3 linked regions of the Homo sapiens genome follow. The protein of the gene in region 2 purifies or fractionates together with the protein of the main gene of each other region. This does not show direct contact. Each region holds a gene or a part of one and is shown on either strand. Other genes may lie near its edges.

The links.
Region 1: the proteins of CDON (region 2) and CDH2 purify together in Homo sapiens (affinity purification with western blotting, with the first as the bait; one study listed by BioGRID). This does not show direct contact.
Region 3: the proteins of CDON (region 2) and CDH15 purify together in Homo sapiens (affinity purification with western blotting, with the first as the bait; one study listed by BioGRID). This does not show direct contact.

What each region holds. Positions count from the first base shown.
Region 1 is NC_000018.10:27,950,395-27,953,952, reverse strand, and holds the end of CDH2 (cadherin-2 isoform 1 preproprotein), read left to right. Parts: intron 1-1,593; coding exon 1,594-1,800; 3' UTR 1,801-2,987; downstream 2,988-3,558. UniProt on the Homo sapiens protein: Calcium-dependent cell adhesion protein; preferentially mediates homotypic cell-cell adhesion by dimerization with a CDH2 chain from another cell. Cadherins may thus contribute to the sorting of heterogeneous cell types.
Region 2 is NC_000011.10:125,959,094-125,961,866, forward strand, and holds part of CDON (cell adhesion molecule-related/down-regulated by oncogenes isoform 2 precursor), read right to left. Parts: coding exon 2,631-2,773; coding exon of another isoform or gene 2,562-2,630; intron 2,013-2,561; coding exon 1,849-2,012; 3' UTR 1-1,848. UniProt on the Homo sapiens protein: Component of a cell-surface receptor complex that mediates cell-cell interactions between muscle precursor cells. Promotes differentiation of myogenic cells.
Region 3 is NC_000016.10:89,170,293-89,174,558, reverse strand, and holds the start of CDH15 (cadherin-15 preproprotein), read right to left. Parts: upstream 2,812-4,266; 5' UTR 2,728-2,811; coding exon 2,686-2,727; intron 1-2,685. UniProt on the Homo sapiens protein: Cadherins are calcium-dependent cell adhesion proteins. They preferentially interact with themselves in a homophilic manner in connecting cells; cadherins may thus contribute to the sorting of heterogeneous cell types.

The sequences.
Region 1 (3,558 bases), on a different chromosome or scaffold from region 2:
TGTTTCTTAAAATATATCTTCATCGTTTCTTATTTTTTCAAATCCCAAGGCAGGACATTTTTCTCAAAACTTAAATTTTTTAAAAATACTAACTAATATTCATTGAGCTCTACATGTGCCAGTCACTGTGGTGAGACCTCGGGTCCCTTTATTGCATTTGGTCTTTATAATAGTCCTATTATTATGATTACAGTTGTAGATGAGGTTAAGCGGAGGTCCCACAGCTAGTACTGGGGAGAGCTAAGGTGTCATCTCACAGTCTGATCTCTTAACCACTACACCATACTGATTCTGACCTTAATTTTTTTGCTCTTCTTCCCTGTTTCTCCTTTGTAACCTTGAAAGGATAGGTGAACACATGCTCATAAAAACCCATGTATGCGCTCATAAAATGCATGTGTATTGGCAGGCTTGATCTCTCAAGGGTAGGACTGTCTGTGACACATCTTAGATAGGTGAGGCCATATAAGCCAACTAGCATTTGACAAGTAGAGTGTGGAAAAAGCAAACGATTGTTTGGAGACTAATGTTAGTGTATCTAGGAGTACTAGAATGGAATTGGGGGAAAAAATTAAGTAGAAAATATACCAGAGGACCTAATACTAAATCCTTAGAAGTTTTGCAGAGCATAGAGACTCTAATTGTATATTAAAAAGCATCTGCTTACAAAAGTTACAAATATAGATAGTAGTTATTTCCTTGTTTCTTTTTTCTTAAAATTCTTTATAAGAACCAGATAACGCATGTTATTTTAGATTGACAGGAGTCCTCCTCTTTTCAATATTTATACCGTGTACAGATATTGGATTATGACATTTCTAGGATTTTTTGGAAGTTAGAAGATACCCTATTTTTTAAAATACCAGTTTACAATTAATTAATTCCACATTTTATGCTATGTTAGTCACATAAATGATTTTCTGAGTACCTCCCTTTATGTAGTAATCACATCTGACCTGTCTTCAGTCTTCCTTTGATGTCCTTCCAAAATGAGGTCAAATACAATGCTACTTTCTCTTTGAACTCCTAGCTCTTAATGCTGATGTGAATTTTTTTCCCCCACAACCTGATGGCTTTTGCTTTGACTTCATAGTTTTGTCACTTGTCATTTGCTTCACACAGTAGTAATACCTGTTATGCTAGACTGTAAGCCTGTGGAGGGACATGGACCACATGGTACTCATTTGTGTGTCTCTTGTATTTCAGTGAGGTGCTTTTTTTAAATTTAATCTAGCAATGCTGCTCTATATATTATGTTATTTAAGATCCTTTCTTCTCTGCCTCAAGCAGGGCCATTCATTTCTGCCACCTGTCCAACTTATTACCCAGTTAACCCCCTCCCTTCATAAGCCTTGGCCTCCCTGAGCTTGACTGCTTAGGGTTGTTTCTTTGCACCGGAAAGATATAAGTTAATTTTTGTCCAACTTTCAAATGGTTATATCTCCCTTTTCCATGTGTTGAAAATATGGTATGTAAATGGAAATTTACAAACAAGTGTTTGTTTGATCCCGTGAATTCATTAGGATCTGCTTGTGGTTTTGTAAAGTGTAACCCTCTCTTAATTCTTTCATTCTTTGTGTTTCCAAATTGCAGGGCCTTAAAGCGGCTGACAATGACCCCACAGCTCCACCATATGACTCCCTGTTAGTGTTTGACTATGAAGGCAGTGGCTCCACTGCTGGGTCCTTGAGCTCCCTTAATTCCTCAAGTAGTGGTGGTGAGCAGGACTATGATTACCTGAACGACTGGGGGCCACGGTTCAAGAAACTTGCTGACATGTATGGTGGAGGTGATGACTGAACTTCAGGGTGAACTTGGTTTTTGGACAAGTACAAACAATTTCAACTGATATTCCCAAAAAGCATTCAGAAGCTAGGCTTTAACTTTGTAGTCTACTAGCACAGTGCTTGCTGGAGGCTTTGGCATAGGCTGCAAACCAATTTGGGCTCAGAGGGAATATCAGTGATCCATACTGTTTGGAAAAACACTGAGCTCAGTTACACTTGAATTTTACAGTACAGAAGCACTGGGATTTTATGTGCCTTTTTGTACCTTTTTCAGATTGGAATTAGTTTTCTGTTTAAGGCTTTAATGGTACTGATTTCTGAAACGATAAGTAAAAGACAAAATATTTTGTGGTGGGAGCAGTAAGTTAAACCATGATATGCTTCAACACGCTTTTGTTACATTGCATTTGCTTTTATTAAAATACAAAATTAAACAAACAAAAAAACTCATGGAGCGATTTTATTATCTTGGGGGATGAGACCATGAGATTGGAAAATGTACATTACTTCTAGTTTTAGACTTTAGTTTGTTTTTTTTTTTTTCACTAAAATCTTAAAACTTACTCAGCTGGTTGCAAATAAAGGGAGTTTTCATATCACCAATTTGTAGCAAAATTGAATTTTTTCATAAACTAGAATGTTAGACACATTTTGGTCTTAATCCATGTACACTTTTTTATTTCTGTATTTTTCCACTTCACTGTAAAAATAGTATGTGTACATAATGTTTTATTGGCATAGTCTATGGAGAAGTGCAGAAACTTCAGAACATGTGTATGTATTATTTGGACTATGGATTCAGGTTTTTTGCATGTTTATATCTTTCGTTATGGATAAAGTATTTACAAAACAGTGACATTTGATTCAATTGTTGAGCTGTAGTTAGAATACTCAATTTTTAATTTTTTTAATTTTTTTATTTTTTATTTTCTTTTTGGTTTGGGGAGGGAGAAAAGTTCTTAGCACAAATGTTTTACATAATTTGTACCAAAAAAAAAAAAAAAGGAAAGGAAAGAAAGGGGTGGCCTGACACTGGTGGCACTACTAAGTGTGTGTTTTTTTAAAAAAAAAATGGAAAAAAAAAAGCTTTTAAACTGGAGAGACTTCTGACAACAGCTTTGCCTCTGTATTGTGTACCAGAATATAAATGATACACCTCTGACCCCAGCGTTCTGAATAAAATGCTAATTTTGGATCTGGTGACTGGTTTGAACTTTTTCTTTTCTACTTGAGCTGCTTTGAATGTTGCAAAAATCCCAAGTACTGGGAACAACAGTACAAAAAGTATGTATTTGTTCTTGCACTATTCACCATTGAAACGCGTAGCATGGCAACCATGTACGGTGTGCAGCAGAGAGAATCATTTTGGACCTTCCCATCATCATAGAAGAAAAACATCAAGTGATTCAGGAATAGACCCTACTGGTGGTGATAGAAAAATCACATCCTTTACCTTCAGTGAACTTCGGTGTTAATTCTTAATATAACTCATGTTTTAATTTGTTTCTGCTCAAGTTAATTGTTCTGTTGACTGACAGGCCTTTCCCATTAGAGCCACCACCATAAGGGAAACTTCAGTAAAGTGGGTTATAGGACTGAACCTGGAAACTGCAGTGGACACCTGGAATTCTTGTGCAATTCATTGAAGCCATCGTTTTATGTACTTAGTGAAACACACTTAGATTTGACTGGCCTTTATCCATTGACTTGATCATTTGCTTCAGTTTGATATAGTAATGGTTGCAGAGGGCAACAAAAGGAAACAGTCTTG
Region 2 (2,773 bases):
CGACTAGGGAATTACATTCACTACATTCTACTGGAAGTAACTCTTGCATAGTGACCCAGCTTAAACAAGCACATTTTCACTAACAGTTCTATTATAAAATATATAGACATATGTAAGGGAATACTGATGCATTTATACAGAAAGTTGGTTAACACAGTATTGTATTCTATTCCACTGCGATTTCTGGGAAACTAACATTTCTTCACTTCTGCTGGAATTGCTTGACTCTATAGAAAGAGAATAATTTTCTGTTTCTTTCCCCAAAGGGATGCACAATGCACAAAGGAGCAGTGATCCTTGAAAGCTTGACTCAAGCTATGAAACACACTTACATAATTATTGTTTTTTAATGTGAAGAGCCTTCCAAAGGCAGCTGCAAATGTCCTTGTCACGCAGAGGCAGCCGTGGTCAGGAGCTCTGCTGACCAACTTGGCTTTAGGTGCCTATTTACAAGGGTGACATTCTGAAAAAGGTATCAGGAAATTTCAGGAAAAAAACCCAAAACAAACAAACAAAAAAAAACAAAAAACAAACAAACAAAAAAAAACCCTTTTCTTCCAAAGTAAGTCTTTTCTGACACTCACCCCTGCAGGCCGTTGCCTATGCTGGAGATGGGGGATGACTAGTTTCGGCGTCATGGCACCATAAGCGTGTCCCTGTGCTAATCCAACAGACTGGAGAGCTCCCGCCAAGACAGGCTCCCTGCAGCCCTCCCCTTTCTTTCTTCTGAAAATGTGTATCTTTCTCTTCAAGCCACCATTTAATGTCTTATTTTGTTCCTACTCCGAGAAACAGTCAAAAAGAGCCCATAGTGGCCATTTTATAAATTAATGTAATTTTAAAGCAGTGGGACATGAGGCATTATTTGTCTCTCTGGCCTTGGTTCCTTTTCTGCATACTGCCGTAATTCATCAAGACCTTACACTCCACCACGTCCATAACACTATGACTAGTGCCTAGCAAACTGAACATCACTCGTGCCCACGTGCAGATACAAAGTCAACAGGTCACATTACCACTTCTGTGGAAGGCACTCTTGTAAAATCCGTCAGCCAGGTCTGTTATTATAAACATGGGTCACAACTGCAGTTGATTTCAAAGTGTTCTCAGGAAGTCTGATAATACAGGCCAGACGTGGTGGCTCACGCCTGTAATCCTCGCACTTTGGGAGGCGGAGGCGGGTGGATCACTTGAGGTCAGGAGTTCAAAACCAGCCTGAAACCTTGTCTCTAATAAAAATACAAGACAATTAGCTGGACGTGGTGGCAGGTGCCTGTAGTCCCAGCTACTCAGGAGGCTGAGGCGGGAGAATTGCTTGAACCTGGGAGGCGGAGGTTGCAGTGAGCCAAGATCGAGCCATTGCACTCCAGCCTGGATGACAGCAAGACTCCATCTCAAAAAACAAACAAAAAAAAGTCTGAGAATACACTATTGAAAGACCATTTTCCACCTGAAAACCCAGCTGGTGGCAACCTTCAACGGGCCCCTGCATTCCCTCCTAGCCGAAGCAGCCAAGAGATGGGATCCTTTGCATGAGGAGCTCTTGCTGTCACTATAGCTGTTAGAAAACATGGAAGGACCCCTCTGCCCTCCAGGTGACTGAATACTATGCAAAACAAGGTTGTTTCCTACCGAGGGGGAGGAAGGAATGGGGAAGAAAACATTTAAGGCATAAATAATATAAAAGGGCACACGTTTTAAGATACATTCATATGACATTACTACTACAAAAAAATAAATAATGATTTTCTCTGATTTGAATTAAGGTCCTTCACACAGTTCGCTCCCAGGCCTGTTGTGTGCAGTTACCGGCTTGAAGTTGGAACATGACTGGTTGTTTGCATGTCCTCAGGTTTCCCGGGGCTGCTGAAGGACCTCTGTCGGGCTGTCTAAAGGAATGCCAGGTGGAGACCACATTGTCTTCTCAGCACAGCCCTCGGGGACAGGTGGCAAAATAAGAGCATTCCAACTTACAATGTTGATCTCTGTTTCTGAATGGGCACAGCTGTCTCCTGAAACACAGCAGGGTTTGGGAGCATTATCAAATGATAAAGGCTGATTTTTACAAAGCAGTCTAAAAACTTCTTCACACTTTGAGCCAAGAAGAAAGAAAAACGAGCATAAATAGAACCTGGTTTGTGTGTGGTTTGAATTTGAGGGCGACAGAAGGTTTAAAAGGTTTAAAATAAAGTTGAGCTCTCATGAGAAGCTATACAATTCACCTGAGAAGTAAAGCAACCCCTTAAAAGCCCTAAAATAACCACCTGAAAGAAAGGTTACAACTCCAGAACCAACTCAAATCAAAAAGGGGCTCATGTTCACAAAATGCATTCTTCCAGCAAGTCTTCTGCTACCCTACGAATGAAATCAAAGCCTATTTCCAAATAGATTTTCCAAAGTGTGATGGGATTGACAGCCTGAGATGAAGGACATGAGTAATAACAGAATTTCAAAGAATCCTTTATCTTGAGTCCTATCTTTTCCTGAAGGACCCAGCACCCCACCCAGTCTCCCAAGAAATATGTAAACTAATCATAGAGGGGAAACTCTGAAAGCATCACCTTCCCATACACAGCTCTTAGCTAACTGAAGATGATCTGGAATCCTAAGGTTGATCATGCCTTCCTGACCTCTGCTGAACTCTGCTGGATCTTCTGAGCCATCAGAGCTGACGTCATTTACAATGTCCTGACAGCAGGTACGCTGAGTAGGGACTGGTTCCACATTGTCCTTGACGCTCTCCTCCGGCAACTGGCCACAATCAGGGACTGCG
Region 3 (4,266 bases), on a different chromosome or scaffold from region 2:
TGTGTAAGAAAGCTCTGCACACACTGGGCGCTTGCTGCAGTCTACAAACACCACTGCGAGGTGGGAATGGGGTTTACGAACACCACTGCGAGACGGGAACGAGGAGCGGTTCTGGGGCCGACCTTGCACTCCTGCTCCCCCGGTTTTCCAAGGAAGGGTGCTACGAGATTCTAGGAACACGCTTGGTGGCGTGTGGGTGGGTTTGCCTGGGAAGAGAGTGCGAAGGCCCCTCAAGCTTCTCAGGCTTCAACCCCTCCCCCAGGCTGGAATCTGGGGCCACCCCGTTCCTGGATGGCCAGGCATGCCAGGAATGGCCCCAGCTGTTGGCCTGGCCCAGAGCGGCTGGAGCATCTTCCCTGGGCCCCACCCTCTCTAGCTGCTGCGGGCTTCAGAGAAGGGATGTGGAAGAAGAGGCATGGAGGCAGCTGTCCCCTCCAAAGCACGGTGTCTGGGGCTGTCCTTCCACTGTGGGAAGAACAGTGGCCTGGGAGCCACTTCCCTTCTTGGCCTTGGTCACAGTCACCCGAGCTAAGAGCCCCTGCCTGGCCCCCAGGGTGCTGCTGACTGTCTCCCAGAGACCAAGGGGCTCCCAAAACCCAGATGCAGAAGTGGGGACCTTCCCAGCAGGCTGGGGTTCTCTGTGAGTCAAGTGTGCTGCCCCAGACCTCAGCCGCCTCCCAGCTGGGGTGGGGTCCCAGGTGTAGAACCAGCAACTAGGGATGGTGTAGGTGCAGCAGGGCTGAGAGGGGCCAGTTCTGAAGACACCCTCCGGGTGGGGCTGAGTGAGCTCAGCAATCAGAGGTGGCCCGAGCAGGGGAGCAACCCCTCACTTGTAGAAGGCCCTGATGGGCCCACGCTGCCTGCCTGGGGGCTCACCAGGAGGCGGCCCAGGACCCCAAGGCTGCCCAGGAGAGCTCACAGTCCTGAAAGCTGAGCTGCTGGGGGAGGGGCAGGCAGGGTCCTGACACTGACATATTTTGCCTCACAGTGGAGTGAATTTGAGCCTTGGCGATAGTCCCCTTGCCATCTGGCCCCCACCTCCACCACCTCCCCCAGCCTCCAGCTGTCGGGGGAGGGGGTTATTGTCCCCCAGCCCTGGGCGAGAAAAGAAGGGACAGTGAGAGGGAAGGCTTCTGAGGAGGGAGAGGTCCTGCCTGCCTCCCCACCTGCCACAGAGCCCCCTGGGGCCTTTTGAAAGGCAGACACTCCCAAATCCAAAGGAAGAGGTCTGGAGGAATGTTTTCACAGGCGCCAGCCTCCCCACCACCATGCCCTGGGTTGGGGTGCCAGGGAAGAAACCCTGTCCCCAGAGCAGGTGGGGAAGGGCCCTGGAGGCATGGAGCCCCCCAGCCTGCGCTCCCCGGCAGAGGGCTGAGGGGTGGAGGGCCGGGGGGTGAGCACGCATGCTGAGCCACTGTCTCCCCCCACCACTGTCTCCAGATGGGGGAGTCGGGGGTGGCAGGAGCCGTGGTGCCCTCAGGGGCAGCTGCTGGAGGGTCTGGCTGGCCAGGCGCCTGGTCAGCTGCCAGGGGCTGAAATTGGAGCCAGCTGGAGCTGGGAGGCCTGTGGGAATGAGGGGACTCAGGAAGCCCCTTCAGTGGGGGCTGGGAAAGGAGTGGCTTCCCTTACTCACTGTGTCCAGCACTCCCTGACCACCCCAGGACCACAAGAGCAATGAATACTGTGAGCACCGCTAAGCCCTTTATGTGCATTCTCTCTCGAATTGGCCAGAGAGAGGCTGCCCTCTTGTACCCAGTGACGTCCCAACCACAGCCGGCCATGCCCCAGCCCAGCCCAGTCCCTGGGGGCTGAAGCCACTGAGGCCACATCCTCCATGTCTAGGTCCCCCTAGGGTGTGAGGAGACGTGGCTCCAGCTAGGCAGTACCCATGTCGGGTGTGGGGGGCTGAGGCCTGGGCTTCCTTCCACTCTGGCTTGCTCCCACGTTGGAGAGACCACGGTGCCAGCAGTCCAGACAAGATTTTTAGGGGCAGAGTCCAGCAGCCTCTGGGGGCTGGGCCCCCAGGCCTGATCACCCCAGGCAGCTGCGGCAGGGTCCCAGGTGAAGCCCAGGAACAGAGCCCCCAGGGCTGCCACACGCCACTCTGCAAGGCCGTGTGTTGCGACCTGGCTCGGGCTGGGCCCTCCCAATCGAGAAGTAGCCGTGAGGGTGAGTTCCTGGGGGCAGGGCCTGCAGCCACCCCTGCTGGCCAGGAACTTGGGGTGGGGGGTTTGGACAAAACCCAAGACTAGCCAGGGGTCCTGTGCCCACCGCAGGGAGTCCCTATAGAAACCTGGCCCCCAGCCCCCCAGAGAGGGGCACTCCTGCCGCTCCCCCCTCTCTCTGCTCCACTCAAGACTGGCAACCCCCAGACCCCGGCAGCGGTTCCTCCAAAGAGAGGGCACGGCTACCTGGGTGGCCCCTGCCTGGGGTCCCTGACCCCAGCAGCACTCTGCAGTCCTGGGGGTGATTCCACCAGATGGAGTGTTTGGTTACACTCACTCCCCACAACCCCTGGGGTGCTGCCCCCAGCCCAGGGACCCACCCGGAGCCACTCCGCTCACAGGCCCCCAAAGGCGACCAGGGCCAGTGGTTCTGGGGGAGACCTGTGCGGCTGCAGTTGAAGACACTGTCCCGCAGCGTCGAGGGAGGCAGCGGGGACCCCCGCAGGTGCCGATGCCTTACCTGGGCCAACAGCCCGAGGACGAGGAGGAACGCGGCGTCCATCGGGGCCGAGGCGGGAGCCGGGCCGGAGTGCACCCGCGACCCGAAGAAGCGCGTCCAGGCTGAGTGACAGCGCAAGTGCGCGGGGCGGGCCAGGGCCAGAGACAGAGACAGCACGTGTGAGGGGGGCGGGGAGGGGGCGGGGCAAGGGCTGAGTGACAGCACGAAGGAGGCCTCTGACGGGCCGAGGGCCGGCCTGGGCAGGGCTAAGGCTGAGTGACAGCGTGTTGGCAGGCGGGTGGGGCGGAGCCTCTGGCGAGCTAGGGCGGGGCGCAGGCTGAGTGATAGCCCGTGTGCGAGTGGGGCAGGCGGGGCGGGGCCGGGGCCGAGGGCTGAGTGACAGCGCAGGTGCGCCGGCGGGGCGGTGACCGCACGAGGCTGGTGGGGCGGAGCCAGAGGAGGATGGGGCGGGCGGGGCGGGGCCGAGGGCTGAGTGACACCTTGTGAGAGTGCGGGGTGGGGCCGGGGTGGGGCCGGGGCGGGGCCGAGGGCTGAGTGATAGCTTTTGCGGGGTTCCGGCGGGCAGGGCCAGGGCTAGGTCGGAGATACCCCGGCTTGCTGCGTTGGGAGCAGAGCCAGAGGCCAGGCTGTGGGGAAGGCAGGGTGGGTGCGTCCGGGTCAGGGACCAGCTGGGATTCCTGGCTTCTTCATTTCCTGCTCCTTGGGCCCGGCTCGCCCCTGCTCCAGGGAATCTGCATTGTAGTCCCTGCCGGGGGACACCTCTTGAGCACTTCCTTGGGCCCCTCGCCTCTCTGGCTGCGTCTCCTGCGCCTCCCCGCATCCCACTGAACGCTAGGCCCGCCTTCCACGCACCTCCTCGCGACCTCATTTTGCCCAGCTCTTATTCAGTATGGAACTGCTCTGGTTCACACGCCTCTGATACCAGCGTGGCTCGTAGGACACCCCCAATTCCCCCAGTCCACGCACCTCCTCCAGCATCCCCTTGTTCCCCGAGGCCCCCTGCCTGGAGCACCTTCCTTCCTACAGAACTCCTTCTCATCATCCCTCAACACCCAAGGTCAACGCTGCCGCCTCCTGGAGCCTCCTTGCCACCTCGGCCAGAAGCCCTCCCTCCTGTTGACTGTGGCACCTGTTCTCCCCTTCGAGACCCCGCCCCCTGGGATGGTGTGGGTGTGGCTCAACACCTGCACAGGCCCAGCGCACGGTCAGGAAGGTCCTGGAGAGGGGGTGGAGGGGGCTGGAGGCAGGAGGATCCTTTCTTTTGAGCAGGCAGGGTGGGGAGTGGGGGTTGCCGACCAGCCCAGGGCCGGGCCGGGGAGCCCGTTCCTCTCTGTGATGGGAGCAGACCCGGTACCTCTGCTCTCCTGTCGACGGCGGGTGGCTGTGCAGGTGCAGGCAGCATCTGTGCACTTGGCCTGCTTGAAAGGAGGCCAGGCTGCCCGGGAGGCTCAGGCCAGGACTGTCCCTAGCGCTCACTGCTCCAAGATGAGAGAGGGCAGGGAGTCCATCTCCAGACTGGGAGGCCTCTGGGGCTGGGGTGTAGCCTGTTGGGGACCACCATCCTGCCTCTGTGGTCAGTGA